2 separate regions of the Homo sapiens genome follow, and region 2 is linked to region 1. Evidence: fine-mapped expression QTL. A gene starts in region 1. The other region holds a variant in brackets. All regions are shown on one strand. Distances are between the middles of the regions.

Region 1 (16,381 bases):
AAAGTGTGAGGCCGGGCGTGGTGGCTCACGCCTGTAATTCCAGCACTTTGGGAAGCCGAGGCGGGCAGATCATGAGGTCAGGAGATCGAGACCATCCTGGCTAACACGGTGAAACCCCGTCTCTACTAAAAATACAAAAAATTAGCCAGGCATGGTGGCAGGCACCTGTAGTCCCAGCTACTCGGGAGGCTGAGGCAGGAGAATGGCATGAACCTGGGAGGCGGAGCTTGCAGTGAGCCAAGATCGTGCCACTGCACTCCAGCCTGGGCGACAGAGCAAGTCTCTGTCTCAAAAAAAAAAAAAAGTGTGAGCCACTGCAGCCGACCTGAAAGTTTCTTTTTTTTGAGACAAGGTCTCACTATGTTGCCCCTGTCGGAGTGCAGTGGCATGATCAGGGCTCACTGCAGCCTTGCTTTCCCAGGCCCAAGCAATCTTCCCACCTCAGCCTTGCAAGTAGCTGGGACCACAGGCATGTGCCACCACCCCTGGCTAATTTTTGTTTTGTTTTTTTCAGAACAGAGTCTCTGTCGCCCAGGCTGGAGTGCAGTGATGTCAGTCTCAGCTTACTGCAGCCTCTGCCCGCCCCCCGGGCTGGTTCAAGCGATTCTCATGCCTCAGCTTCCCGAGTAGCTGGGATTACAGATGCATGCCACCACATCTGGCTAATTTTTTGTATTTTTAGTAGAGACAGGTTTCACCATGTTGGCCAGGCTGGTCTCGAACTCCTGGCCTCATGTGATCCACCCACCTTGGCCTCCCAAAGTGCTGGGATTACAAGCGAGAACCACTGCGCCTGGCCTGGGAATTGAAGTTTCTTAGTGTTTGGAATAGTTTAAAACGTTTTTTATTTGGAAATTTCTGGGTTTTGAAATGTATATGGACTGGCTGGGCACCATGACTCATGCCTGTAATGCCAGCACTTTGGGAGGCCGAGGCGGGTGGATCACTTGAAGTCAGGAGTTTGAAACCAGCCTGGCCAACATGGTGAAACCCTGTCTCTACTAAAAAAACCAAACCAAAACAAAAAAAAATTAGCCAGGTGTGGTGGCGGGCGCGTCTGTAATCCCAGCTACTCAAGAGGCTGAGGCATGAGAATCACTTGAACCCGGGAGGCAGAGGTTGCAGTGAACTGAGATCGCGCCACTGCACTCCAGCCTGGACAACAGAGTGAGACTCTGTCTCAAAAAAAAAAAAAAAAGGTATATGGATTAAAACTAGAGGGACAAGGATGGTTGTTTAGAGGTGACATCTTGACCATGTAACCTAGTAGTTTTTTTAGTTCAATTAGTTGTGTAAATGGACATGTGTCATCACAGTTGGCACTAAAAACAGCAAGTGGGTTATTAGATATTCAATACTGGGTTAGTAAGTCAAGTCACAGTCAAAATCTGCTGCTTTGGAAAACAGGTTAGTTTACTGAAAGTGATGTATTAGAACACAGACTATAGTCATTTCTTTCACCTATCTAAATAGATAAAATCTTCCAGCCTCACACCTGTAATCCCAGCACTTTGGGAGGCCGAGGCAGCAGATCACCTGAGATCGAGAGTTCGCGACCAGCCTGACCAACATGGAGAAACCCCGTCTCTACTAAAAATACAAAATTAGCTGGGAGTGGTGGCTCATGCCTGTAATCCCAGCTATTTGGGAGGCTGAGGCAGGAGAATCGCTTGAACCTAGGAGGCAAGGTTGCAGTGAGTCGAGATCGCGCCATTGCACTCCAGCCTGGGCAACAAGAGTGAAACTCCGTCTCTAAAAAAAGAAAAAAAAAAGCCTTCCTCCAGGACAGACTTGATGTGAATTTACTATAAATATATTGTGGTGGAGTGGGGGTGGTGCACACCTGTAATCCCAGCACTTTGGGAGGCCAAGAGAGGCAGATCGCTTGAGACCAGGAGTCCAGGAGTTTGAGACCAGCTTGGGCAACATGGCGAAACCCTCTCTATGAAAAATACAAAAGTTAGCTGGTGGGGTGGTGTGTGCCTGTAGTCCCAGCTACTAGCTACTTGGGAAGTTGAGGCACAAGATTCGCTTGAACCTGGGAGGAGGCTGCAGTGAGCCGAGATCACAGTACTGCACTCCAGCCTGGGCAACAGAACCAGGCCCTGTCTCAAAAAAAAAAAAAAAAAAAAAAAAAATATATATATATATATATATATATATATATATAAAATATATATTCTATATATATTATATTAATGTAATATTAATTAGAATATATATTATATATATAAGAAATATTTAAGCCAGTTAGAATTGTCTTGTTAATGTGTTGTCTTAAAGGGGAGTTGGAAATAAAGTATCTTGAAGACAGCTCTGGCCTAAGTGTCAGATCTCTGGACTCTAGTTCCAGGTTAGATTCCAACAAGGTTAGTGATCTAGGATGAAATATGTTTCCTGAGTCTCAGTTTTGTTACTTAAAATCAAGAAGTTTGAGTTTGTGATTTTAAAAATCTATAACATTAATCCCATGATTCTTTTTATTATTATTTTTTGAGACAGAGTCTCGCTCTGTCGCACAGGCTGGAGTGCAGTGGCGCGATCTTGGCTCACTGCAACCTCTGTCTCCCGGTTTCAAGTGATTCTCATGCCTCAGCCTCCCGAGTAGCTGGGATTAGCACGCACCACCACACCCAGCTAATTTTTGTATCTTTAGTAGAGACATAATTTCACCATGTTGGCAAGGCTGGCCTTGAAGTCCTGCCCTCATGTGATCCACCCGCCTCAGCCTCCTAAAGTGCTGGGATGACAGTCATGAGCCACTGCATCTGGCCCTAATCCTGTGATTCTAAGCAATATTCAAATTGTGTTAATTTCAAAAATTAAGGACTTATTTCCATTCACTTCTGCATGGCCTCATCCAGTCCATGGCTTCAAATACTGTGTATTATACATTCTATAAAATGCTGAGGACCCATATCTCTCCCGCCTCTATTTGTAGCTGTTATTTCCTGGATGTCTAGTAGGCACCTCAAATATCACATGACTGAAACAAACTCAATGACTTTCTCTATTTCCTCCACTAAATCTGTTGCTTCCATGCTTTTCTCATCTCCACAAATTCACCACAGTCCACAATAGCTCTGTTGAAAACCTGGCAGTCATCTTTTATTCCTTCCTTTCCGTCATAGCTCACATCCAGTTTATCTATTGGCGCTTTGAGAGCTGCTTCCAGAATACACCCAGAATCTGATCACTTCTCAGTCTTCATTGTTTAAGCCACTGGTGGTTTTCTATGTCTTTTAGGTTGAAATCCACATTCCCTACCTGCAGCCCACATCCAAACAATTTACAGGGGGATTCCTAACCCTCCTTGGTGTCCATCCTGTCACTCATTAATTAGCTCAGGCCTTCTTACCCTTGGCATGGACTGCCAGAACCTCCAGTCTCTATCCCTCTTCAATGCTTCTCGCAGCTACCACAGGTGGGCAGCAAGCCACGGGGGGCGTGGGGAGCATAAACTCATCTTGGAGTGTCACTCGTTGGTTTGCTTTTTTTCTTTAATCAACTATGTTGAGGTAAAATTTACATACAATAAGTCATGTACAGTTAAAGGGTACAGTTCAGTGAATTTTGAAAAATGTGCAAATCTATTCAATGACCACTAAAATCAAGACACAGAACTTTTCCATCATCTTTAGGTGTAAGAAAGTAAAATAGTACAGAGGCAAGTAAAGTAAAAATATGAGCCTTTCTCCAACTCCATTATAGCTTTTTGCAAAAACAACTCAACATGGCCGGGCACGGTGGCTCATGCCTGTAATCCCAGCACTTTGGGAGGCCGAGGCGGGCAGGTCTCCTGAGGTCGAGAGTTCAAGACCAGCCTGACCAACATGGAGAAACCCCATCTCTACTAAAAATACAAAATAAGCTGGGGTGGTGGTGCATGCCTGTAATCCCAGCTACTTGGGAGGCTGAGGCAGGAGAATCGCTTGAACCCAGGAGGTGGAGGTTGTGGTGAGCTGAGCTCTCACCATTGCACTCCAGCCTGGGCAACAAAAGCGAAACTCCGTCTCAAAAAAAAAAAACAAAAAAAATTCAACATTTCTGTGTGTGTTGCATGAGACAATACATATACATTTTTTTGGTGCCCAAACTCTCGAATAATGTTCTCAATCTTGACTGTACTTCAGAATTACCTGGGAAGCTTAAAAATTCCCAGTGCACAAGAAGCACTCCAGGCCAATTAAATCAGAACATAGGGGTGGAACCCAGGCTTCTATTTTATTTACTAATATTTTAGAGATGAGATTTCTCTGTGCTACCCAGGCTGGAGTCATCATAGCTCACTGCAGCCTCAAACTCCTGGGCTCAAGTAATCTTCTTGCCTCAGCCTCCCTGGCTCAAATGATCCTCTCACCTCAGCCTCCCAAGTAGCTAGAACCACAGGCGTGCCAGCACACCTGGCTAATTATTTTGCTTATTTTTTGTAGAGGGTCTCGCTATGTTGCCCAGGTAGGTCTTGAATTCCTGGGCTCAAGCCATCCTCCTGCCTCGGCCTCCCAAAGTGCTGGGATTATAGGCATGAGCCACCATGGCTGGCCCTTTTTTTGTTTTTTTGTTTTATTTTTAAGCTTCCCAGTGCAAGCAATGTTGAGAACTAATCTTTTGCCAAAGTATTTTTAGCTCTTTGTTCTCTACTAGGTTAACACCTACCGGGTCTTCAAATCTCACCTCAGAGTTCACTTCCAAGGGAAACGTGTTTTCTGAATCCGTCTCCAATGGTGGACTCTCCTTGCTGTATTACTTCTGCTTGTGTTTTTAGTCAAGTCTATTATTATTACTATTTTCTTTGCAGAGACGAGGGCTACGTTGCCCAGGTCTTGAATTCCTGGGCTCAATAGATCCTCCCGCCTCAGCCTCCCAAAGTGCTGGGATTTCAGGCGTGAGCCACTGTGCTGGCTTTAGTCATCTGTTTCCCGGATAGACTGTGAGCTCCCCAGGATCTAGCACAAGCCTGGCATATGACAACATAAATAAATGAGTGAATGTATACATGAATAAAGAGCGTGTACGGAGAAAGTTGCCGCATTATTTAGCGCAAATTAAGGCAGACATCAGCCTGCCCAGGACGCCTCTTTGGCTCTGGCGCGAAACACCCTCACGGGCCGGCGAGGCTGACGCGCTGCGCTCCATCGCACTAATCAGCCGGGCGTGGTGCGGGCGCCGGGAAGACTGGGCGGGGCGAAGGCATCACCTTTCGATGGGGCCGGCGCTGTGCGTCCTCCAGTCGAGGTGGGGCGCTGTGGAAGAGCGGCAGCTTCCGGTCGGCTTTTCTCTTCCTTCGGCTGCCGGCGCCAGCACGTCCTGTTTTCGTTGGCCGCGCTGGGATGGCCGCCACAGCTGTAGGTGCTGCTAGTGTTTAGCGCTGGTCTTTGCCGGGCGTTGAGGGCAGCTCAGCCTCCTTGTTTGTCCGGTTCGCCTGTGCGTGGTACTCAAGGGCACCAGTATTCCCGCGGTCGGCAGCATGGGTCGGGAGTCACGGTGAGGCAGAGCGCCGAGCGGGCTAGCGGGCGAGCGGCTTCTTGGGGTCGTGAGAAGAGGCGGGAGTTGAGGTGGCCGCCGGGCCAGGCCTGGCGCGGCCCCACGTGCGGTCAGCGCTGCCCCGCGAGCATTGGAAGGGCTGGGGGACCTCGGCTGAGGGAATGGTTGTGTTTGGGCCAGCGACGGCTTCCCCTGCACTACCATCAGAGGGTTCGAGCCCCTGGAGCGGGAACAACCCTCCAGGACGTTAGTGATTGGGCACCACATCCCGCCACTTCAAGGGAGCCTGCCCTGATTACTTCAGTCAGAAGTGATCCCAGTTGGATTGCTTATTGCTTCGCGTTTCCAACATTTCCTCGACTCCTGTCATTCTGTATTTTAGTTCTTTGTGCGCGTATGATCTTTTCCCAAGTTACTTGAAAGGAGCGTGTGGGCAGACATTTTTACCGCATCGACAGCACTATACACGACTAGGCTTTTACTGGGCTACAATAAATACTTGTTGCGTGGGCATTTACTTCGCAAATAGATTTCGTATTTAAGCAGGTAACTTTGTTACCTGCTTTTCTGTCCTTTTGAAGTTGTGGACTATGAGCTCTTATTAGAACTCATTAGATCTCATCACAACTTTAGATTGTTGATAGATTGTTAGGAACCTTGAGATTTTTATGTTAAAAATGACTATTTGCTATGTATTTAGCAATGACTGAAAGATATTTTATGTCTAGGAACAATGAAGGCTTTTGTTGTTAGTGCTAACAGTTCTTTGTTGAGGTACAATTAACAATCAGGGAAATGGACAAAACGTAAGGGTAAAGCTTGATGAAATTTAGCAAATATATAAACCGTGTAATCATCACCTGGATGAAGATAAAAAATATTTCTTTAACTACAGAAAATTCCTGTGACGGTGTTTTAAATCTCCGGAAGGCTGTCCAGACCAGAAATCTGAAAGTGATATTTATTTGACTCATTCTTCTCTCTCACTACCCACAGCCTGTTAGATTCTACATCCTTTGCCCATTCTGGTTGTCCCTGACTTAATTGAGGCCCTAATTATTTATTGTCCAGACTACTACATCTGTTTTAAATTGATTCTCTGAATTGATTGTCTTCCTCTGTTGCTCTCCTAATTGTTAGATCCCTTACACTACAGCCAGAGTGACACTTCTGAAGTAGAGATAAGATGATGGCATGCCCCTGACTTAGTCTCCATTGGTTTCTACTGCTTCCAAGATGAAATTTAAACTCTATGACAGCCTTCAAGGCCCTTCACAAGAAGGTCCATTCTAGCCCGTCAGCCTTCTCCTTTACCTCTCTGGTGTGCATGGCCTGTGCTCTAGGTTTGTTCAGGGAATCATGAAAGGCTTAGAGGTGGGAAGGCGCAAGGTGTTAGAGAAATAGCTAAAAAGCCCAATTTTTCTGCATATGTAGGTTTCATGAAGGGATTTTATCTTTTTTGAGAAGTAGTAGGAGGTAGGTCCTGAATAGGACTTGGGCCCAGAAAGCGGGTGGATTGTAGATTTTGAAGATCAGAATTTGTTTGTGAACCTTTGAAGATTTTGAGTAAAAAGTGTGTAATAGAATCAGAATTCTCCTTAGCAGCAATGAGTAAGATTTAATGGAAAAGTAATAGAAACAGGAAGACTACAGTCTTTAAGAATCTCCTAGGTAGATATGTCTGATATAGAATAGTGACGGTTGGAACTCTGTGGAGGTGATATAATGTGAAGGGAATTACAGAGGTGAAATTGGTATTACTTGGTTGTTTTTTTGTTTTTGTTTTTGTTTTTGAGACAGAGTCTCGCTCTTTCGCCAGGCTGGAGTGCAGTGGTGGGATCTCGGCTCACTGCAAGCTCCGCCTCCAGGGTTCACGCCATTCTCCTGCCTCAGCCTCCCGAGTAGCTGGAACTACAGGCGCCTGCCACCGCGTCAGGCTAATTTTTGTATTTTTTAGTAGAGACGGGGTTTCACCGTGTTAGCCAGGGTGGTCTCGATCTCCTGACCTTGTGATCCACCCGCCTCGGCCTCCCAAAGTTCTGGGATTACAGGCGTGAGCCACCGCACCCGGCCTGTTTTTTTGTTTTTGAGACAGGGACTTGCTCTGTCTCCCAGGCTGGAGTGCATTGAAACAATCTTGGCTCACTGCAACCTATGCTTCCCAGGTTCAAGAGATCCTCCCACCTCAGCCTCCCGAATAGCTGGGACTGCAAGCGTGTGCCACCACGCTTTGCTAATTTTTGTATTTTTTGTAGAGACAGGGTTTCACCATGTTGCCCAGGCTGGTCTCAACTCCTGAGGTCAAGCTCTCTGCCCACCTTGGCCTGCCAAAATGCTGGGATTACAGGCATGAGCCGCTGTGCCCAGCCAATTGGTGTTTTATTTATTGTATCGAATGAGAGCAAGAGAAAAATATTGATGATGACTAATGTTTTGAGCCTAGTGACCGGAAGTTGGTACGATTAATCGTTTGGGGAGGGAAGGGTAACAAGTTTGGGTTTCTACAGATTGAACTTGAGGTGCTTGAGAGATAATCAGGTGCATTCATCTCCTAGTGATCTTATTTAGGTTTATAGCTTTAAATAGCCTTTGTACACTAATAGCTGTCCAGTTTATATTTCTAGAGAAACCTCTTCCTTGAACTACAGGCTAATATTTCAACTATATACTATATATCTCCACTTGGATACCTAATATTCTGATCCACCTTCTCCCTGGATTTCTCCCTCAGCCTTCCCATCTTGGTAAATGGCAACTGAGTGATTTCTCTCTTGCTGTCACACTTGACATTTAGTTCATCATTAAATCCCATCGGTGCTAGCTTCAAGATATCCAGATTTTGATATTTCTCAAAATCTTTCCACCTTCCATTTTGATCTATGCCACCACTATCTCATGCCTGGATGATTGCTATAGTGCTGGTCTTTGCTAATCCTGCCTATTCTTTCTCCTTTTGTCCTTGCCTCCCTTTGTTTGGTTTGTTCTCTCAGCAACCAGAATAATACTTTAAAAACATTAGGCCAGGTGCAGTGGCTCACACCTGTAATCCCAGCATTTTGGGATTACATTAAGTGGAAGGATTGCTTGAGCCCAGGAGTTTGAGACCATCCTGAGCAACATAGCAAGACTCCATCTCTACAAAAATGAAAAATAAAAAGAAATAAATAGGTGGGCATAGTGGCACACGCTTTTATGCTTTTGGTCCCAGCTACTTGGGAGGCTGAGGTGGGAAGATGCTTGAGGCCGGGAGGTTAAGACAATCCTGAGCAACATAGTGAGACACCATCTCTACCCAAAAAAAAAAAAAAAAAAAATTGGTGGGCGCGGTGGTGTGTGCCTTTGGTCTCAGCTACTCTGGAGATTGAGGTGGAAGGATTGCTGGGGCCCAGTAGGTTGAGGTTACAGTGAGTAGCAATTGAGCTGCTGCATTCCAGCCTGGGTGACAGAGTGAGACCTTGTCTCAAAAAAGAAATTTAAAAAAATGATAAAAAGGCTGCATGCGGTGGCTCATGCCTGTAATCCATCCCAGCACTTTGGGAGGCTGAGGCAGGTAGATCACCTGAGGTCAGGAGTTCCAGACCAGCCTGACCAATGTGGTGAAACTGCCTCATCTACTAAAGATACGAAACTGGCTGGGCGTGGTAGTATAGGCCTGTAATCCCAGCTGCTTGGGAGGCTGAGGTAGGAGGATTGCTTGAACCTGGGAGGCAGAGGTTGCAGTGAGCTGAGATGGTGCTATTGCATTCCAGCCTGGGCAACAAGAGTGCGACTCTGTCTCAAAAAAAATAAATAAAATAAAATAAAAATAATTAGCTGAGTGGCCGGGCGCAGTGGCCCAAGCCTGTAATCCCAGCACTTTGGGAGGCTGAGGCAGGTGGATCACGAGGTCAGGAGATCGAGACCATCCTGGCTAACATGGTGAAACCCCATCTCTTCTAAAAATGCAAAAAAAATTTAGCCTGGCGTAATGGCGGACGCCTATAGTCCTAGCTACTCGGGAGGCTGAGGCAGGAGAATGGTGTGAACCCGGGAGGTGGAGCTTGCAGTGAGCTGAGATTGTGCCACTGCACTCCAGCCTAGGCAACAGAGCCAGACTCTTTCTCAAAAAAAAAAAATAATAATAATAATTAGCTAAGTGTGGTGACGCATGCCTGAAGTTCCGGCTTCTTGGGAGGCTGAAGTGGGAGGATTGCTTGAGCCTCAGAGAGTTGAAGTTGCAGTGAACTGTGAGCACATCACTGCACTCTATCCTGGATAATAGAGTGAGGCCTGTTTCTAAAAATAAAAATAAAAACATTAATGAGGTTGTGTCACTCCTCTGCTTAAAGTCTTCCAGTAGATTTTCATCTTGGTGTAAAAGACAGAGTCCTTATATAATGGCCAGTAAGGCCTTCCAGGTTTGGCTTCCCTGCTGTTTTTCTGACCTCGTCTTATGGCACGCTGTGTCACTCTTTCAACACTAGCCACAACTGGCATCCTTGCTGTTCCTTAAACTCACCAGTCAAGCTTCCTCTTTAGGGACTTTGCACTTGTGCCTTTTGCGTGGAAAATTCCCTGTATATCTACATGGCTCCTTTATTTCCTCCAAGCCTCTGTAACAAATGTCATATTTATATTGTATATAAACATACTATATACAGTGTTTGTTTCTTCACTTGTCTGCCGTCTTTTCCTTTACCGGAGTGTAAGCTGCCTGGAGCTCAAAGGCAGGAGCTTGGTCTGTTTTGTTCACTGTCCTTGCCTCTCTTTCAAGACAGATTTTCCACCTCTACATGTGTCTGTGCTGAAGCAGAAGGGTTCATTTTTTCCCTCCTAATTTTAGAAAAATTCATAAAAAGTTCTTTGAGTGTTAAATTTGTCTGCTGAAATTATTTTTAGAAAAAATGTAATAAAATGTAATAGAAGCTAATGGTGTTTGCTGAACTTAATCTTTGACTTATTGTTCTAGCCACTATCGAAAACGATCGGCATCCCGGGGTCGCTCTGGAAGTCGGTCTAGAAGTCGCTCACCCTCAGACAAAAGAAGTAAACGTGGAGATGACAGACGGTCTAGAAGTAGAGATAGAGATAGGAGGAGAGAGAGGTCTCGTAGCAGGGATAAAAGAAGATCTCGGTCAAGGGACAGGAAGCGTCTGAGGTAAGACATTAATTAATTTCCAAAAGACGAGTGATAAATTGGGCCTTCTCGGCTATAGCAGGCTTCTTGAAAAGTATGTTTTCAACTGGAGTTTGGTGGCCCAATTGCAGGCCCTTTTCTTTATCCCCTACTTGTTTGATTAGACCCAGAAGGATGTGCCTACAAAGACTCTATCAAACAGTGTTTTTTTTTTTTTTTAATCTTTTTTGAGACAGAGCCTCACTCTGTTGCTCAGACTGGAGTGCAGTGGTATCATCTCTGCTCACTGCAACCTCCACCTCCTGGGTTCAAGCGATTCTCATGCCTAAGCCTGCCAAGTAGCTGGGATTTCAGATGTGCACCACCACACCTGTCTAATTTTTGTGTCTTTAAAAGAGACGGTGTTTTGCCATGTTGGCCAGGCTGCTCTCGATCTCCTGGCCTCATGTGATCCTCCCACCTTGGCCTCCCAAAGTGCTGGGATTACATGTGTGAGCCACCGTGTCCGACCATCAAACAGTGTTTTTAGTTTGGAAACTTTAGGCTGTATTTCCTGTAACCCAAAGACATCCCTTGAAGCCCTCTGAGGGACATACAAAATGAAGTAAAAAGTAAAGTAATAAGTTATATTCAAGAGGGTTCTATTCCAATTCTGCTCCAGGAGAGCTGACCAAGGTGTTAATTTTCTTTCCTTTTTTTTTTGCCACCCTTGTTGAAATTTGTAAAATTTCCTTCCTCTCTCCCTCCTTCCCTCCCTCCCTTCCTCCATCTCTCTCTTCCTTCCTCCCTATCTCCTTCCCTTCCACTCTCTCTCCCTTCCTCCCTCACTCTTTCTCTCTTTCTCTTTCTTTCTTCATTTTGCTAAACAGTGTGTTTAGAGCAGCCTCTAAAGCAGGCAGAAAAAGGAAACAAAGCAGACCCTCTCCAAGCCTCTTAAACTATTTTAATGAGCTGTCATAGATTTAAACTAAAGAGCGCCTTAATCTTTTTTTTTTTTTTAATTTATTTTTTTTTTGAGACAGAGTCTCACTCTGTCACCCAGGCTGGAGTGCAGTGGCACGATCTAGGCTCACTGGAACCTCTGCCTCCCGGGTTCAAGTGATTCTCATGCCTCAGCCTCTTGAGTAACTGGGATTACAGGCATGCTCCACAAAGCCTGGATAATTTTTGTATTTTTAATAGTGACAAAGTTGGCCAGGTATGGTGGCTCATGCCTGTAATCCCAGCACTTTGGGAGGCCAAGGTGGGTGAATCACGAGGTCAGGAGTTTGAGACCAGCCTGGCCAACATGGTGAAACCCCGTCTCTACTAAAAAAAAAAAAAAAAAAAAAATTAGCCAGGTGTGGTGGTGCATGCCTGTAAACCCAGCTGCTCGGGAAGCTGAGGCAGGAGACTTGCTTGAACCTGGGAGGTGGAGGTTGTAGTGAGCCGACATGGTGCCACTGTACTCCAGCCTGGGCGACAGATCAGGACTCCATCTCAAAACAGAAAAAAAGAAAATAATCTTCTGTGCACACCACACCCAGCCAATTAAAAAAAGCTTTTCATAGAGATGGGGGTCTTAACTGTGTTGCTAGTGGCCTCCCAAAGGGTTGGGACTACAGGTATGAGATACCATACCTTGCCCAGTTTCTCATTAAAATAGGAAAGGAAGACAAGATTGTGTTGTGAGTGGATCATAGAAAGAATTTAACTTTATCCTTTTCAGACATTGGAGTACATTGTTGTTACGTAGGATTCAGGGAAAATATTCACCCGTGACAATGTGGATAGCATTTTCACATTTTGTGGTCCTAGGAACAATTTCACACAATTAATTCAAGTACTTAAGTGAAAATGGTTATTTAACATTTGGTCTTTGACTTTTGGGTGTGAAAGTAGAATCACAAGATTTTAGAGCAAGAGGGATTTTAAAGATGTCTAGTGAAGTCTCCATATTTTATAGATGATGAAACTGAGACCCAGAAAGTTGGAGATCTGACCTTCATCATGTCATTAGTTACCAGGAGTAGCAGGATAGAAATTCTTGCCTCTTCATCTTCAGATTAGTGATCTTTTAGTAGACCCATTATGCCCATCCTTATACTTAGGTTTAGGCTATCTGAAACTAGATATTCTATCTTAGACCATCGATTTTCAATCGATGTTAATTACAGACTTATTATGGTTTTTTCACAAACATCTTTATGAAATTAGTATTCTCTGGCCTGGCATGGTGGCTCACGCCTGTAATCCCAGCACTTTGGGAGGCTGAGGCAGGCAGATCACCTGCGGTTGGGAGTTCGAGACCAGCCTGACCAACATGGAGAAACCCCATCTGTAAAAATACAAAATTGGCTGGGCATGGTGGTGCATGCCTGTAATCCCAGCTACTCAGGAGGCTGAGGCAAGAGAATCGCTTTAACCCAGGAGATGGAGGTTGTGGTGAGCTGAGATTGCGCCATTGCACTCCAGCCTGGGCAACAAGAGCAAAACTCTGTCTCCAAAAAAAAAAAAAAAATTAGCCGGGCATGGTGATGCACATCTGTAATCCCAGCTGCTGGGGAGGCTGAGGCAGGAGAATCACTTGAACCCAGAAGGCAGAGGTTGCAGTGAGCTGCAATTGTGCCACTGCACTCCAGCCTGGGTGACAGGTGTGAGACTTTGTCTTTAAAAAAATGAAAGAAATAAATTAGTATTCTCATTTTTTTCGTTGAGCACTTATAAGACTTGGCTTTACTTCATTGAGACCTCCACCTTTAATAATGGTAGTGATTAAGATTCTTTCAATGTGGGACAGAATCCCCTGATCTGAAATAGTAGCTCCATTTGGTCATAGAATAAATGAAAAGTGTCCCCCTTTCAGACGTTCCAGAAGTAGAGAGAGAGACAGAAGCCGAGAGCGAAGAAGATCTCGAAGTAGAGACAGGAGACGCTCAAGGAGTAGAAGCCGGGGCCGGCGATCCCGATCCTCCAGTCCTGGAAATAAAAGCAAGAAAACTGAGAATAGGTAATGTTATCATTGGGCTGCATCTATAGTGCAGACTGGGGACTGCTTCCCTTCTCTGCGCCTTTTTTTTTTTTCCCTGTAAGTTTGTATTTATAGAGAATTAACTGCATTTGGCTCCTACCATGAACTGTTGGCAGTGTTTTATTTTAATTGGCTATAATGTTTATAATTCAACTGGAAAATAATAGATTCTGTCAGTTTTAACATTCAATACATTGTATTCTTACTTAATACATAACTGTCAATCAGAAATGTATTTTATAGACATCTTTGTAGAAACTCTGTCATTTTCTTTTCAGGCAGGGTCTCACTCTGTTGCCCAGGCTGGAGTGAAGTGGCAAGAACATAGCTCACTAACCTTAAACTTGTAGACTCAAGCAATCCTCTCACCTAGGCCTCCAAAAGTCCTGGGATTATATGAAGAGGCAGACATAATATCCCAGCTAATTTTTATGTTTTTAGTGGAGATGGGGTTTTGGCATGTTTGCCAGGCTGGTCTCGAACTCCTGACCTCAAGTGATCTGCCCACCTCGGCTTCCCAAAGTGCTGGGATTACAGGCCTGAGCCACCGCGCCCAGCCAAGACTTGTCTTAAAAGTTAAGAAATTAGGCCAGGCGCGGTGGCTGACGCCTGTAATCCTTGCACTTTGGGAGGCCAAGGTGGGCGGATCACCTGAGGTTGGGAGTTGGCGACCAGCCTGACCATTGTGGATAAACCCCGTCTCTACTAAAAATACAAAATTAGCTGGGCGTGGTGGCGTATGCCTGTAATCCCAGCTACTCTGGAGGCTGAGGCCGGAGAATCGCTTGAACCCAGGAGGCAGAGGTTGCGGTGAGGTGAGATCATGCCGTTGCACTCCAGCCTGGGCAACAAGAGTGAAACTCCTTCTCAAAAAAAAAAAACAAAAAAAAGTTAACAGAAATTAAGACAATGTGCAATTTGTTTAGCAGTGGACAGACAGATTAGTGAACCATGTAAAGAGCCCAGAAAGGCATCCATACACATGGTAATTTGATAGATGACAGAGGTGATGATGTAATAAGTGAAGATTTTTTTTTTTTTTTTAACAGCCAAAGTCTCGTTCTGTTGCCCTGGCTGGAATGCAGTGGTGCAATCTCGGCTCACTGCAACCTTCGCCTCCCGGGTTCAAGTAATTCTCTTGCCTCAGCCTCCCGAGTAGCTGGGACTGCAGGTGTGTGCCAACATGCCCAGCTAATTTTTTGTATTTTTTAGTAGAGATGGGGTTTCACCGTGTTAGCCAGAATGGTCTCGATCTCCTGATCTCGTGATCCACCCGCCTCGGCCTCCCAAAGTGCTGGGATTAAAGGCGTGAGCCACCGTGCCTGGCCAGAAAAATTTTTAAATTGCTCTAGGGATATCTAGTATCCTTTTATGAAATAAGACTGCCTACCTTATTCTGTGTACAAAAAGCAATTCCAAGCAAAGACCAAATTAGATGGCAAAATTCTAAACCTTTTAGAAGTTTGTGCCAGAGAGTATCTTCTTCTTCACCTCTAGGTATCTTACATCAAATCTGGAAGGATTTCTAAACTACTTTAAAAAGCACCAATTATAAAGGAGAAAAAAGGTTGACTAATTTGATTACATTAAAATTAAGAAATTTTATTCATTATGAGATGCCGTAAGTTGGGGTGCGTAAACAAGTTGGGTTTATTCCAAGAATGGCAGGTTATTTTAACATTAAAAAATCATTAGAAGTCTGGGTGAAGTGGCTCACGCCTGTAATCCTAGCACTTTGGGAGGCCGAGGTGGATGGATCACGAGGTCAGGAGTTTGAGACCAGTCTGACCAACATGGTGAAACCTCGTCTTTACTAAAAGTAAAAAATTAGTCAGGTGTGGTGGCACACACCTGTGATCCCAGCTACTCGGGAGGCTGAGGCAGGAGAATCACTTGAAGCCGGGAGGTGGAGGTTGCAGTGAGCCGAGATTGCGCCACTGCACTCCAGCCTGGCCGACAGAGAGAGACTCCGTCTCAAAAAAATCCCCTAAAATCATTAGAACATTAGAACATTCGAAATGCATGTCCCTTGGGATTTTAAACGTTATTACATATATAAATTATCTTGCAGAATATTAATATATTGGTCTGTTTCTTCATTTATCACATTTTAACTATCCTACCTATAAACAAACTATATTGTTTGTATGTAGTATGTTCAGTTTTTCTTGGGTTGAATTTCCAAATATTTAGTAATGCTTCCCATTAGTGTCATGGGATTAATTTTTTTCGTTATATTTTCAAGGTTTTTTTTTTTTTTTTTTTTTTGAGGCAGAATCTTGCTCTGTCGTCAGGCTGGAATGTAGTTGTGCAATATCAGCTCATTGCAACCTCTGACTCCCTGGTTCAGGCTATTCTCCTGCCTCAGCCTCCTGAATAGCTGAGATTACAGGCACGTGCCACCATACCCAGCTGATTTTTGTATTTTTTAGTAGAGACGGGGTTTGTTTTTTTTGTTTGTTTTTTTTTTTTTTTTGAGGTGAAGTTTTGCTCTTGTCTCCCAGGCTGGTGGGCAATGGTGCAATCTCGGCTCACTGCAACCTCCGCCTCCCGAGTTCAAGTGATTCTCCTGCCTCGGCCTCCCACCCCTGAGTAGCTGGGATTACAGGCGCCTGCCACCAAGCCCGGCTAATTTTTGTACTTTTAGTAGAGACAGGGTTTCACCATGTTGGTCAGGCTGGTCTAGAACTCCTAACCTCATGTGATCCACCTGCCTCGGCCTCACAGAGTGCTGGGATTACAGGCGTGAGCCACCGCGCCCGGCCGAGTTG
Region 2 (16,381 bases), 280 kb before region 1:
CTCCCAAAGTGCTGGGATTACAGGTGTGAGCCACCGCACCCAGCCAATTAATCAGTTTTTTTGAGACAGAGTCTTGCTCTGTCACCCAGGCTGCAGTGAAGTGGTGCAATCTTGGCTCACTGCAACCTCCACCTCCCGGGTTCAAGCAATTCTCGTGCCTCAACCTCCCTAGAGGAGGGTATGTGCCACCACGCCTCGCTACACTGTTAATATTTGGGCATATTTTCTTCCCACTTTTTTCTATGCTTATATACATGTTAAAATACAAAATTGACATCATGTTCTATATGGAGCTTGGTATGCCATTTTGTTGTTTTTTAATGTTAAAATTACTCTTGTAAGCTACAATGGAACACTAATCATCCATAAAAAAGGAATGAAGTACTGCTACATTCTACATGGATGAACCTCAAAAACATCAGACTAAGTGATAAGCCAGACACAAAAGGTCTTACATGATTCCATTTATATGAAATATCCATAATAGTAAATCCGTAGAGATGGAATGCAGGTTGGTGGCTGCCAGGGGCTCAATGGTGTGTGTGTGTGGGAGGGAGTGGAATGGAGAGTCAGTGCTTAATGGGTACAGGGTTTCCTTTTGCAGTGATGATAATGTTTTGGAACTAGATAGAGGTGGTGGGTGTATAACATCGTGAATGTACTAAAGGATACTGAATTGCTGACTTTAAAGTTTGTATATAAAGGTCAGTGTTACCCTGATATCAACATCAGACAAGGATATCACAGGAAAAGAAAACTACAGGCCAAGTGCCATGGTTTATGCCTATAATCCCAGCACTTTAGGAGGCCAAGGCAGGAGGATCCCTTGAGCCTCCAGGAGTTCGAGACTGGCCTAGGCAACAGAGACCTCGTCTTTACAAAAAATACAAAACAATTAGCCAAGCATGGTGGCCTATACCTGTAGTCCAAGCTACTCAGTAGGCTGAAGTGGGAGGATCCTTGACCCTGGGAAGTTGATGCTGCAGTGAGCCAAGATTGTATCATTGTACTCCAGCCTGGGCAACAGAGTAAGGCCCTGTCTTCAAAAAACAAAAACAAAAAAAGAAAACTACAGATCAACATCTCTTATGATTATAGATATAAAAATCCTCAACAAAACACTAGGAAAAAACAAAAAAACTTTTTTGAGATGGTCTCACTCCATCACCCAGGCCCACTGCAGCCTTGACCTCCCAGGATCAAGTGATCCTCCTGCCTCAGCCTCCCAAAGTGCTGGGATTACAGGCATGAACCACCACACCCAGCCCCAAATTTTTTTTATGTGAACCTCACCTCAATAAAAAAAATTACATTTGTGAGCATTACTACATGTGATTTAAAGCTCTTTAGAAGTATGACTTTAGCCAGGAGTGGTGGCTCACGCCTGTAATCCCAGCACTTTGGGAGGCCAAGGCGGGTGGATCACCTGAGGTCAGGAGTTCGAGACCAGCCTGGCCAACATGGTGAAACCCCGTCTCTACTAAAAATACAAAAATTAGCTGGGCGTGATAGGGCACCCCTGTAATCCCAGCTACTCGGGAGGCTGACGCAGGAGAATCGCTTGAACCTGGGAGGCAGAGGTTGCAGGGAGCTGAGATTGCACCATTGCACTCCAGCCTGGGTGACAGAGTAAGACTCTGTCTCAAAAAAAAAAAAAAAAAAAAAGAAGTGTTACTTTAAAGTATCTTTAAAATATCTTACTTGAGGCCAGGCGCGGTGGCTCAAGCCTGTAATCCCAGCACTTTGGGGGCCGAGACGGGCGGATCACGAGGTCAGGAGATTGAGACCATCCTGGCTAACACGGTGAAACTCTGTCTCCACTAAAAATACAAAAAAAAATTAGCCAGGCGTGGTGGCGGGCACCTGTAGTCCCAGCTACTCGGGAGGCTGAGGCAGGAGAATGGCGTGGACCTGGGAGGCGGAGCTTGCAATGAGCCGAGTTCCTGCCACTGTACTCCAGCCTGGGTGACAGAGTGAGACTCCATCTCAAAAAAAAAAAAAAAAAAAACTTATTTGATTTTTAAATTACAATACGTACATATGTACATATTTGTGATGAAGTGAAATAATAGTTAAGGATTATGTGCAATCTCAGAATCCCATAATAAATTCTCAATAGCTACAAAACATTTCATTATAAATATGTCTTATTTTACTATATATCTAACTCATCTAACATTTTTTATCATTACATGTTGTGGTTTAATGAATATCCTTATGATTGTTTCTTAGAAGTAATTATTATTTACTGAGAACCCTTTTTGGTTTTTTTTGTTTTGTTTTTTTGTTTTGTTTTATTTTGTTTTTGAGACAGAATCTTGCTCTGTCTCCCAGGCTGGAGTGTGGCAGGATCTCAGCTCACTGCCACCTCCGCCTCCCAGGTTCAAGAGATTCTCCTGCCTCAGCCTCCCAAGCAGCTGGAATTACAGGTGGTTGCTGCCACCACACCCAGCTAATTTTTGTATTTTTAGTAGTAGAGACTCTCACCATGTTGGCCAGGCTGGTCTAGAAGTCCTGACCTCAAATGATCTGCCTGCTTTGGCCTCCCAAAGTGCTGGGATTACAGGCGTGAGTCACCATGCTTGATCTGAGAACCATTTTCTTAGGATTGATTCCTAGAAGTAATTGGGTCAAAGTGAGGCAGGGGTCAGGACTCGACTCCGGAAGTAGAGTGCTGACACTGAAGCAAATTGAGGACTAGTTAAAATAGGGACTGGGTGGAAGCAGCTTTCCATAAGACATGCCCTGCCAGTGTGTCATGTCAGTTTACCACTGCCATGGCAACACCCAGAAGTTACTGTCCCTTTCCATGGCAACGACCCAGTGACCTGGAAGTTACCATCCCTTTACTAGAAATTTCTGCATAATCTGCCCCTTAATTTGCATTTAATAAAAAGTGATATAAATATGACAGCAGACCTGCCTTTGAGCTGCTACTCTCAGCATAGTGTCTATGGAGTATCCCTGCTCCACAAGAAGCAGTACTTCTGCTGCTGCTGAATATCACCACTTCAATAAAAGTGGCTGGCTAACACCTCCAGCTCACCCTTCAGTAAAAGTTGCTGTCTGGCCGGGCGCGGCAGCTCACGCATATAATCCCAGTGTGGGATTTGGGAGACCGAGGCAGGTGGATCACAAGGTCAGGAGTTCGAGACCAACCTGACCAATATGGTGAAACCCCATCTCTACAAAAAATACAAAAATAGCCAGGCGCGGTGGCTCACGCCTGTAATTACAGCACTTTGGGAGGCCAAGGTAGGTGGATCACAAGGTCAGGAGATCAAGACCATCCTGGCCAACGTGGTGAAACCCCATCTCGACTAAAAAAATAAATAAATAAATAAAAATTAGCTGGGTGTGGTGGTGCGTGCCTACAGTCCCAGCTACTTGGGAGGCTGAAGCAGGAGAATCGCTTGAACTCGGGAGGTGGAGGTTGCAGTAAGCCAAGATTGCACCACTGCACTCCAGCCTGGGGACAGAGAGAGACTCCATCTCAAAAAATTTTTTAAAATTAAAAAAAAAAAAAAAAAGTTGCTATCTAACACCCCCAGCTTGCCCTTGATTTCTTTCCTGGGCAAAGCCAAGAACCCTCCCAGGCTAAGTCCCAATTTGAAGGGTTGCCTGCCTTGCATCAAAACGGGAGGGGCCAACATTTGTAAGATTCTTCAAGCAAACTGCCAGTATTTTTCCCACAGTTTGAGCAACATTATGAATTATTATATTTCAAAAAGGTCTTTAGGCTGGGCAGAGTGTCTCACGCCTTTAATCCCAGCACTCTGGGAGGCCAAGGTGGGAAGACTGCTTGAGGCTAGGAGTTTGAGACCAGCCTGGGCAATATAGTGAGATCTTGTCTTTACAAAAAATTAAAAATTAGCTGAGCATGGTGGTGCTTGCCTTCTTGGGAAGCTGAAGTGGGAGGCTCATTGAGCCTGGGAGGTGGAGGCTGCGGTGAGCCAAGATCACACCACTGCACCCCAGCCTTGGTGACAAAGTGAGATCGTATCTCAAAAGAAAAAGAAAGGGCGAAGATATAAAGATTGATTGATTGATTGATTTTGATGGAGTCTTGCTCTGTCGCCCAGGCTGGAGTGTAGTGGTGCAATCTCAGCTCACTGCAACCTCTATCTCCCGAGTTCAAGCAATTCTCCTGCCTCTGCCTCCTGAATAACTAGGATTACAGGCACCTGCCACCATACCCAGCTAATTTTTTGTATTTTTAGTAGAGATGGGGTTTCACCATGTTGGCTAGGCTGGTCTTGAACTCCTGACCCTCAAGTGATCCACCCGCCTCGATCTCCCAAAGTGCTGGGATTACAGGTGTGAGGCACTGCACCCAGCCTTTTCAAAATTTTTTATTTTTATTTTTTAGAGGCAGGGTCTCACTCTGTTGTCAGGCTGGAGTGCAGGGGCACACTGATAGCTCACTGCAGCCTTGAACTCCTGGACTCAAGCAAACCTCCCACATCAGCCTCCCGAAGTGCTAGAATTACAGGCATGAGTCACGACATCCAGCCAAAAATAGAAAGCTTTTAAAAGGTACTATAGGAAAATATCTTTATGACCTCAGGATAGAAAAAAAATTATTAAACTAAACATGCAAAAAGATGCACAAATTGAATCATACTAAAATTTAAAATTTGTTTATCAAAATATCATTATGAGAATGACCCAAAGTAAGAGGAAATATTTATGAAATAACTAGTAAATGGCTTGTATCCAGAATGTAAAGAACTCCTACCATTTCATAAGAAAAATAACTGATGACGGTAATCCCCCCTTATCCATGGGGGTTACATTTCAAGAACCCCAGTAGATGCCTGAAACCATGCATAGTGTCAAACCCTATGTACATGATGGTTTTTCCTACATGTACACACCTATGATAAAGTTTAATTGATAAATTAGTCACACTAGGAGATTAGTAACAATAATAAAAAAAATAGAACAATTATAACAATATGCCAACATCACAACTTTTGTACTTTGGGGCCATTATGAAGTAAAGTAAGGGTTACCTAACACAAGCACTGCAAAACCATGACAGTCCATTGGATAACCCAGACAGCTTCTAAGTGACTAACAGATGGGCAGTGTATACAGTGTGGATACCCTGGACAAAGGGACAATTCACATTCCCAGTGGGAAGAATCAGGACATTGTGAGATTTCATCGCATCACTCAGAATGGCACGCAGTTTAAAACTTATGAATAGTTTACCTCTGGAATTTTTCATTTAATATTTTTAGGTTGCGATTAATTATGGATAATGGAAACCACAGAAAGCCAATCTCTGGATAACGAAGAGACTACTTAAATAGTAAAAATATTACATATAAAATGTTGTGGGTATAGCTAGGACAGTATTTAGTGAAAAATCTATAGCATTAAATGCATACATTTTAAAAGAACACTTGTTAAAAATGGATAAACCAAGGATATATTTCAGGAAGTTATTCTCAAAGAAAGAAGATGAAATAATAAATGTAAGAGAAAAATTTCAGGTAATAAAAAACAAACAAACAATAGAAATATTTTTTTTTTTTTTGAGACAGAGTCTCACTCTGTCACCCAGGCTGGAATGCAATGGCATGATCTCAGCTCGCTGCCAGCTCCACTTTTTGGGTTCAAGCGATTCTCCTGCTTCAGCCTCCTGAGTAGCTGAGATTACAGGTGCACACCACCACGCCCAGCTAATTTTTGTATTTTTAGTAGAGACAGGGTTTCACCATGTTGGTCAGGCTGGTCTCAAACTCCTGACCTTGTGATCCACCTGCCTCGGCCTCCCAAAGTGCTGGGATTACAGGTGTGAGCCACCATGCCTTGACAATAATTTTTTTTTAATATGAAACTTTGTTCTTCCAAAAGACTAATTCAAATGACAAAACTCGGGTGAGCTAACAAAGAAAAAAAGAATAAACAAATATTAGGAATGAAGAAGACATTACAAGAGATCACATATACATCTAAAAATTACTAAGAAGTTATGAACAACTTATTGCCAATAAAAACATATAGATGAAATGAAAAAATTCCCAGAAATAATAATTTACCAAATGACTCATGAAGAAGGAGAAAACGTGAATAGTCCTATAACTATTAGAGATTGAAACTGGCCAGGCACTGTGGCTCATGTCTGTAATCCCAGCACTTTGGGAGGCCTAGGCAGGTGGATCACCTGAGGTCAGGAATTCGAGACCAGACTGGCCAGCATGGCAAAACCCCATCTCTACTAAAAATACAAAAAACTATCTGGGCATGGTGGCAGGTGCCTGTAATCCCAGCTACCTGGCAGGCTGAGGCAAGAGAATCGCTTGAACTCAGGAGGTGGAGGTTGCAGTGGCCCAGACTGCGCCATTGCACTCCAGCCTGGGCGACAAGAGCAAGACTCTGTCTCAAAGAAAAGATTGAAACCATAATTTAAAATCTTCCCACAAAGAAAACTCCAAACCCAGATAGCCTAACCTGTGAATTACATTGAATATCCAACGGAAAATAAATTCTATTCCTACACAAACTCTTCTAGAAGTTCAGAAGTTTCTATTCCCAAAGAACTGGTGTTACCTTCCTCAACTTATTTTATAGAGCTAACATGACCCTGGTCCCCAAATCTGACAAGGTCAAAATGGAAAAATTAAAGACTGATCTCCTTTATAAACACAGATATAAAAACCCTAAACAAAGTATTGTTAAAATTTAGCAACATATAAAAAGGATAGTACATATGACCATCAGGTTATATTAAAAAAAAAAAAAAAAAATTGGCCGGGCATGGTGGCTCACGCCTGTAATCCCGGCACTTTGGGAGGCAGAGAGGCAGGCGGATCACCTGAGGCTGGGAGTTCGAGACCACCCTGACCAACATGGAGAAACCCTGTCTCTACTAAAAATACAACGTGGTGGTGCAGGCCTGTAATCCCAGCTACTCGGGAGGCTGAGGCAGGAGAATCGCTTGAACCACGGAGGTGGAGGTTGTGGTGAGCTGAGGTCACACCATTGCACTCCAGCCTGGGAAACAAGAGTGAAACTGTCTCAAAAAAACAAAACAAAACAAAAAAACAAGTTAATGCAATTTATCATATTAACAGATTAAAGGACTACAGTTATCTCAGTGGATGCAGGAAAAGTATTTTATAAAACACAACATTGAATTAAATGAATGAATTTTTTTTTTTTTTTTTTGAGACAGAATCTTGCTCTTTGCCCAGGCTGGAGTGCAATGGCGCAATCTCGGCTCACTGCAACTTCTGCCTCCCAGGTTCAAGCGATTCCCTGCCTCAGCCTCCCGAGTAGCTGGGACTACAGGTGCCCACCACTATGCCTGGCTAATTTTTGTATTTTTAGTAGAGACGGGGTTTCACCATGTTGGCCAGGCTGGTCTCGAGCTCCTGACCTCAAGTGATCCTCCCATCTCGGCCTCCCAAAGTGCTGGGATTACAGGCATGAGCCACCATGCCCAGCCTTGAATAATTTTGTATTTTGTTTGTTTCTTTTTTTTTTTTTTTTTTTTTTTTTTTGAGACAGAGTCTTGCTCTGCCGCCCAGGCTGGAGTGCCGTGGCGCGATCTCGGCTCACTGCAAGCTCCGCCTCCCGGGTTCACACCATTCTCCTGCCTCAGCTTCCCAAGTAGCTGAGACTACAGGCGCCCGCCACCACGCCCGGCTAATTTTTTGTATTTTTAGTAGAGACGGGGTTTCACCGTGTTAGCCAGGATGGTCTCCAACTCCTGACCTCGTGATCCACCCGCCTTGGCCTCCCAAAGTGCTGGGATTACAGACGTGAGTCACCGCGCCCGGCCTGAATAATTTTTTAAGGTCACTTTTATCAAACTGGAAATGTAAAGAAGCTTTCTTGATCACATAAAGGCTGTCTTTAAAAAAATAACTAAAACAAGGATTATACCTCGTGGTGAAACAATGAAAGTTTTCCCTTTGAAAATGGAACAAAACAGAGATATTCACTACTACCACTTTTTTTTTTTTTTTTTTTTTTTTGAGACTCCCGTCTCGCCCTGTCGCCCGGGCTGGAGTGCAATGGCGTGATCTCCGCTCACAGCAAGCTCCGCCTCCTGGGTTGGAGTGCAATGGCGTGATCTCCACTCACTGCGAGCTCCTAGGCTGGAGTGCGATGGCGTCATCTCCGCTCATGGCAAGTTCCGCCTCCTGGGTTGGAGTGCAATGGCGTGATCTCCACTCACTGCGAGCTCCTAAGCTGGAGTGCGATGGCGTGATCTCCGCTCACGGCAAGTTCCGCCTCCTGGGTTGGAGTGCAATGGCGTGATCTCCACTCACTGCGAGCTCCTAGGCTGGAATGCAATGGCGTGATCTCCGCTCACTGCAAGCTCCACCTCCTGGGTTGGAGTGCAAAGGCGTGATCTCCACTCACTGCAAGCTCCGCCTCCTGGGTTCACGCCTTTCTGCTGCCTCAGCCTCCCAAGTAGCTGGGACCACAGACGCACGCCACCACGCCCGGCTAATTTTTTGTATTTTTAGTAGAGACGGGGTTTCACCGTGTTAGTCAGGATTGTCTCGATCTCCTGACCTCGTGATCCGCCCGCCTTGGCCTCCCAAAGTGCTGGGATTACAGACGTAAGCCACCGCGCCCGGCCTGAATAATTTTTTAAAGGTCACTTTTATCAAACTGGAAATGTAAAGAAGCTGTCTTGATTATATAAAGGCTGTCTTTAAAGAAATAAAACAAGGATTATACCTCGTGGTAAAACAATGAAAGTTTTCCCTTTGAAAACTGGAACAAAACAGAGACATTCATTACTAC[ATT/A]TTTTTTTTTTTTTTTTTGAGACTCCCGTCTCGCCCTGTCGCCCGGGCTGGAGTGCAATGGCGTGATCTCCGCTCACAGCAAGCTCCGCCTCCTGGGTTGGAGTGCAATGGCGTGATCTCCACTCACTGCGAGCTCCTAGGCTGGAGTGCGATGGCGTCATCTCCGCTCACGGCAAGTTCCGCCTCCTGGGTTGGAGTGCAATGGCGTGATCTCCACTCACTGCGAGCTCCTAAGCTGGAGTGCGATGGCGTGATCTCCGCTCACGGCAAGTTCCGCCTCCTGGGTTGGAGTGCAATGGCGTGATCTCCACTCACTGCGAGCTCCTAGGCTGGAGTGCAATGGCGTGATCTCCACTCACTGCAAGCTCCGCCTCCTGGGTTGGAGTGCAATGGCGTGATCTCTGCTCACTGCAAGCTCCGCCTCCTGGGTTCACGCCTTTCTGCTGCCTCAGCCTCCCAAGTAGCTGGGACCACAGACGCAGGCCACCACGCCCGGCTAATTTTTTGTATTTTTAGTAGAGACGGGGTTTCACCGTGTTAGCCAGGATGCTGTTGATCTCCTGACCTCGTGATCCACCCGCCTCAGCCTCCCAAAGTGCTGGGATTACAGGCAGGAGCCAACGCGCCCGGCCCGTGTTTTGTTTTGTTTTGTTTTGTTTTTTACTGTGATGGCCAGAACCGTTAGTATAATGTTAAATAAAAGTGGTAGTAATGATGCCAGGCGCGGTGGCTCACGGGAGGTCAAGGCAGGCGGATCACTTGAGATCAGGAGTTTGAGACCAGCCTGTCCAACATGGTGAAACCCCACCTCTACTAAAAATACAAAAATTAGCTGGGTATGGTGGCAGGTGCCTGTAATCCCACCTACGTGGGAGGCTGAAGCAGGAGAATCACTTGAACCTGGGAGGGAGAGGTTGCAGTGAGCCGGGATTGCACCACTGCACTCCAACCTGGGTGACAGAATGAGACTCTGTCTCCAAAAAAGAAAAGAAAAGGAATAAGGATTGTAAAAAAAAAAAAAAAAAAAAAAGCAAAAATTATAGATGTTATGATTGTATACAGAAGGAATTTTTAAATCTATAATTAGAATTAATCTATAATTCAAGTTTCCTGGACTTCAAAAAAATCAATATACAAAAATCAATGTGTTTAACAGCAACAAAGGGAAAATTATATTTTAAAAGGACAGCCTTCATAATATAATTTTAAAATACCAAATTATTCAGAATTTAGTAACAGCTGAATAAGTCTCTAATGCAGAAAAATATATAGTATTATTGACAGAAACCAAAGAAGATCTCAGTAAATAGAGTAATATATGATGTTCATGGATTTGAAAACTCAATATTACAAACACTGTCAGTTCTTCTCACAGTGATATACAGACTCAATGTAATTTCTAATAAAAACCCATGTAGCTAGGTGCTGTGGCTCACATTAGTCTATAATCCCAGCACTTTGGGAGGCTGAGGCTGGAGGATCGCTTGAGCCCAGGAGTTTGAGACCAGCTGGGCAACATGACGAAACCACATCTCACATCTCTACAAAAAACATATAAAAATTAGCTGAGCATGGTGGCACACACCTGAAGTTGCAGCTACTCAGGAGGATAAAGTAGGAGGCATACCTGAGCCCAAGAGTTCAAGGCTGTAATGAGTTATGATCATGCCACTGCACTCCAGCCTGAGTGACAAAGCGAGATGGATTTTTTTCTAGAACTTGGTAAGATAATTTTTACGTTTACGTGGACATGTGAAAGACCGAGAAGAGCTAGGTCACTACAGAGGAAGAATGAAGTTAAAGAAATTGCTCTAAATTTCTGTAAGTACTAAATTACTATAAAGCTGTTGTAATTAAAAGGGGATGGCATTGATTTGGGGATGCGCAATAAGCCCAATGGAAAAGAGATGAGATCACAGAAATAGATCCACACATATTTAGATGCTTGATGTATGACAGAGATGGCACTATATAGCAGTGGCAAAAAGACTCTCAATAAACTTTGCTGGGATATCTGAGTACCCATATGTGAAAATAATAAAATTGGACCCCTACCTCACACCATACCTCAAAATCAACTCCAGTGTCATATGGCCCTAAATATAAAAGACAAAATTACAAAGCTTTAAAGTAATAATGTAGAAGAATATCTTCATAGTCTTGGATTTTAAAAGTTTTCTTAAGTAAGGTACAAAAAGTAATATCGCAAAGGAAAGATGGACAAAATTAGGAATATCTGTTCATCAAAAGACAACATTGAGTGAAAGGCCAGCCACAGAGTAATAGAAGATAATTGCAACAGATAAAACTGACAAAAATCTTGTTGCTAGAATATATACAGAATTCATATCAATTAGTGATAAAAGACAGGCAATCCAGCAGAAAAATGGGCAAAAGATAGGAACTTTACAAAAAAGAAATCCAAAAGTCAGTAACATAAAAATGTGATCAACTTCTTTAGTAATGTGGGAAAGGTAAAATAAAAGCATAATAAAGTACTACTACACACTTACCAAACTGACCAAAATTTAAAATTTTGACAATTCCAAGTTTTAGCAAAAACACTCATTCATGTAAATTTACACAAACTTGTATAACTACTTTAGAATACAGTTCAGCATTATCCAATTAAGCTGAAAATAACATACTCTATGCCCCAGCAATTCTGCTCTTAGATAAATATCCTACAGAAAAGTGAGCTTACGTGCATCAGGAAACATGGACAAGAATGTTCATAGAAGCATTGTTTGTAGTAGTCTTGTCATAGGTCAGGTTCTCAGGAAACATGCTGGGATAGAGTTTGGGGTACAAGATATTTATTAGGATCAACATTGATATGGTTTGGATATTTGTCTCCTTCAAATATCATGTTGAAATGTGACCCACAATGCTGGAGGTGGGCCTAGTGGTAGGCATCGGGTCACAGGGCTGATCCCTCATGAATGGTTTGGTGCCCTTGCTGCAGTAATGAGTGGTAATGAGTTCACAGGAGAGCTGGTTGTTTAAAGGAGCCTGTTACTTCCTCCTCTCTTGCTCCATCTCTTGCCATGTGACACACCTGCTCCCCCTTTGCCTTCCACCATGAGAGGAAGCTTCCTGAGGTCCTTCCATAAAGTAGATGCTGGCAGCATCATGCTTCATGTACAGCCTGCAGAATGGTGAGCCAAATAAGCCTACTTTTTTTTTCTTTTTTTTCCTGCTCTTCTCCCTCCACCTCTTTTCTTTCTTTTTTCTTTTTTTTTTTTTTGAGATGGAGTTTTGCTCTTGTTGCCCAGGCTAAAGTACAATGACGTGACCTCGGCTCACTGCAACCTCCTTCTCCTGTGTTCAAGCAATTCTCCTGCCTCAACCTTCCGAGTAGCTGGGATTATGGGCACCCACCACCACATTGGGCTAATTTTTGTATATTTAGTAGAGACAGAGTTTCACAGTGTTGGCAAGGCTGGTCTCGAACTCCTAACCTCAGGTGATCCGACCACCTAGGCCTCCCAAAGTGCTGGGACTACAGGCATGAGCCACCACACCCGACCCTCTTTTCTTAATAAATTACCCAGTCTCAGGGATTCCTTTATAGCAACACAAATAGACTAATACAAACATCTCTGAAGGGAAGGGAGAAAAAGCAGGATTGGGCAGAAGTTAAAACTGTGATGCAGGCCTAATGAAACCCAAGCCAAGCTGGCGGGGAACTCTGGTGCAAATAGTCTGCATCTGAGTTGTCCTGTGTTGGATGAAAATGGCCCAGCCTCCATTCACTTGCTTTCGTTGGATACTAGATGCAAAGTGCTCTGGAAAGGATATGATGTTGGGCAAGGCAGCTCTCTGCAGCTCAGGTGGACCCCAAAGAAGCTGTCATCTGAAGGTTTCTGCTGATCACACCCTCTACAACTGGACAGCAAATCCTTCCTTGAAGAGGGATCTGGGTGACACATCTCTCTGTCTACCACAGGGCCCAAACTGGAAACAACATAAATGCCTATCAAGTGAAGAAAGGTTAGACTCTGCAGTGTTCATATAATATACTCATAATCCCCTAGTGTCTCCTTGTGCCTCCTGATCCGTCACTATAGGTTGGTCTTTTTTCTAGAATCATATATTAATGGAACTATACAGTATATACTAATTATATTGAGGCTCATCTATGTTGTTGTATGTAACAGCAGTTCATTCCTTTTTATTGTTGAGCAGTATTCCATTATCTGGATATATGGCAATTTGTTTTTCCACTATCTTGTTGATAGACATTTGGATTATTCCCAGTTTGGGGCTGTTATAAATAAAGCAACTATGAACATTGTGTACAAAACTTTGTATGGACATATGCTTTCATTTCTCTTTGGTAAATACCTAGGAATGGAATGGCTGGGTCATATGATAGGTATATATTTATCTTTTTAAGAAATGATCTAAGTGTTTTCCGAAGTGGTTGTTCCATTTTGCGTTCTCATCAGCAGCATATGAGAGAGTTCCTGTTGTACCCTTCCTGGACTCCATCTTTGCCAATACTTGATTTGGTCAGTTATTTTGTTTTATTGTTTGTTTTTCTGTTTTGAGATGGAGTCTCGCCCTGTCGCCCAGCCTGGAGTGCGGTGGCAAGATCTCGGCTCACTGCAATCTCCACCTCCTGGGTTCAAGCGATTTTCCTGCCTCAGTCTCCCAAGTAGCTGGGATTACAGGCGCATGCCACCATGCCCTGCTAATTTTTGTATTTTTAGTAGAGACAGGGTTTCACCATATTGGCCAGGCTGGTCTCAAACTCCCGACCTCAGGTGATCCGGCTGCCTCGGCCTATGAAAGTGCTGGGATTACAGATGTGAGCCACCACGCCTAGCCTGGTCAGTTATTTTAAATTCTAGCCCTTCTAGGGGGCATGTAGTTTTAATTTGTAGTTGCCTAATGACAAACTGTGTTGAGCATCTTTTCATGTATTTATTTGCCATCTAAATATATTTCATTGATGAGGTGCATATTCAATTCTTTTGCCCATTTTTCAATTGGGTTATCTTTTTATTGAGTTTTAAGATATATGTTTTACAATTTTTTTTTCCAGTCTGTGGCTTGCCTTTCATAATAGCTCTTAATTTTGATGATGCCCAATTTATCGATTTTTATAGTTTGTGCTCTTTGTAGCCCATTTAAGAAGTCTCTGCCAAACCCAAGATCACTAAGATTTTCTGCTATGTTTTTTTCTAGAAGTTTGATAGTTTTAGCTCATACATATAGGCCTATGATCCATATCAAGTTAGCGTTTTGTACTGGCCTAAGAGTCAAGGTTCATTATGTTGCATATGGCTATACAATTGTTCCAGCACTATTTGTTGGGGAAAGATTGTTCACTCCCCATTGAATTGCATTGGTAGCATTTGTTGAAAATCTATTGACCATATATATGAGTGTTCTATCTTTACACAAACACTACATTTTTACAGTTTTTAATTCACATGAATTCATTTAGTATGAGATCTGAAGTAAAGATCTGGACTTATTTTGTCCCCATTAGTTAACCAATTGTCCCTGCAAAAATTAAAAAAAAAAAAAAAAAATCATGTTTCTTATCCCTACTGTTTTGAGGCCCAAGTTTACTACAGATTTATTATGCCATATATGAGTCTATTTCTGGGCAATTATTTTTCACTGATGTGTCTGTGGCTTAGTATTAGTTCTGTGAAGAGAGCTTTTTTTTTTTTTGGTGGGGGCAAGGGTCAAAGTCTTGCTTTGTTGCCCAGGCTGGAGTGTAGCGGCATAATCTTGGCTCACTGCAGCCTTCACCTCCCGGGTTCTAGTGATTCTCGTGTCTCAGCCTCCCAAGTAACTGGGATTACAGGCATGTGCTACCATGCCTGGCTAAATTTTGTATTTTTAGAAGAGATGGGGTTTCACCATGTTGGCCAGGCTGGTCTTGAACTCCTGACCTCAGGTAATCTGCCCGCCTTGGCCTCCCAGAGTGCTGGAATTACAGGCATGAGCCGCTGAGCCTGGCCTGAGAGTTTTGATTGACATTCCTACCTGGGAGTAAGGAGGGAGCCAGAGCCCCACCTGCTCTAAAAAGACTGCCCCTCCTCAGAGCTTCACAGCACCATCATCAGCAGGAGTGAAAAACCCCTCCACCTGCCAACAAGCCCAGCCTTGGGCCCCTCAGACCCTTTATCTCTGCTCACAGCAGTTCCCACAGGAGGCCCAGAACACTCAGGTAGCCTGCACCCCAGGACTCGAAGCCCTACCGGATGCTGTATTTTGCTTTGCTGACCTCATCTCCCTACCCCATCTCTAGAAATCCTTTCACGGGACTCTCTGAAACTCACCAGTATGGCCCTATATTCTCAGCCCCATTTCTGAATGTCCCCTTCACTTTCTTGCTTTAATGGAAACTGCCTCTCCTGTGTGGATTCTGCCCCCTCTGCAGCCTCTTAAGAGGTGGCCGTTTTCCCTCTGTGGCCCTTGTGGCCCCGGGTCTAGGGGTAAGGAGGTGCCCATTTTGCTCCTCAGTGCCACTGCTAGACAGTTTGCCACCCTCTTTAGAAACACCCATATTTGAATGTCATACTGTCAGACAAGATCACTGTTATTCCTCCTTTTTGTAGCAATTTACAAAGCCCTGGGTCACTTCCCTCATTCCTTGAGGATGTTTGCTCCTGGCTCCCAGTCCTCGTCTCCCACCCGACTCCTGCTGCAGTTTTCGATGTGAGCATTCATGTAGATGAATGCCTCTCAGGCCCTTGACCTCCTCTCCACGATCTTGGCTTCCCTAGTACCTCAGCCTCTTGCTCCCATAGCCAGATTTTGAACCCGCCATTATCTGTCAATGCAATCCCTTCGTCATCTCAATTTCATGCATCTCACACTCCAATAAACACTGCCTTGCTCTCCAGCTCACTCCCGCAGGACCCCAAAGCCAGCAATTCCTCCTGGAACCTACTGCTCCAAGCAAATATTCACCATTCCTCATCCTCATAGTGCCCGCCTTCCCTCCTTACCCAGCTTGGAGTTCATGATCCAATACTATACTCTCCCGCTGGCCACAGTAGTCACCTGGCAAAATCACAACCTCAGTTAAATTCAGTCCTCTGCCCCCTCCACCTGTGCACCTCCAGGCTGACCAGAACTGAAGAAAATCTCATAACTGGGCTGACCAGTCTCACTTTAAATTAATGACCACAACCCTCCCTGAGTGAGCCCTAACAGCTGCCCAGCAATCCTACTATATCTCCAAGCCTATTCACACCCCCTCTCCTAGACGACTGCTTCACACCTCCTCTTCCACCTCATTCTCAGCTGACAACCTCTTCCGATTTTGCTAAGAAAATAGAAGCTCTCAGAAGAGAAGTTCCACAGGCCCCACCACTACTCCCCCACCCACCCGCATCTGTGCCCTCCACTCTGCCTGCCATCCCACTGACATGGGCGAGCCGTCCGTGCTCCTATTTCAGGGCAGCCCCTTTTCGTGCACCAGATGCCATCCCCTCCCACCTACTCAAAGACTTCATGCCAACACCTAGCCCCCTTCTCACCCACAGCATCAAATTTCCCTCTCTCCAGGATCATTTTCGTCAGCACACAAAAAAGCTGCAATTCTTCTCAAAGAAAGCCCTCCTCTTGACCCTATTTCT

Evidence for each region.
Region 2: its variant is fine-mapped to the expression of DDX46 in whole blood (INTERVAL, PIP above 0.99).

What each region holds. Positions count from the first base shown.
Region 1 is chr5:134,753,472-134,769,852 of GRCh38, forward strand. It overlaps DDX46 (DEAD-box helicase 46), which reads left to right and starts at 5,308. Exons shown (of 23, transcript NM_001300860.2): 1 at 5,308-5,484; 2 at 10,433-10,621; 3 at 13,446-13,589. The coding sequence starts at 5,468. RefSeq lists an enhancer at 5,083-5,572.
Region 2 is chr5:134,474,938-134,491,318 of GRCh38, forward strand. No RefSeq gene overlaps it. Among named protein-coding and RNA genes, the nearest start is that of LINC01843, 23 kb to the right of the region's middle. The variant ATT/A (reference allele first, on the strand shown) is at 8,773.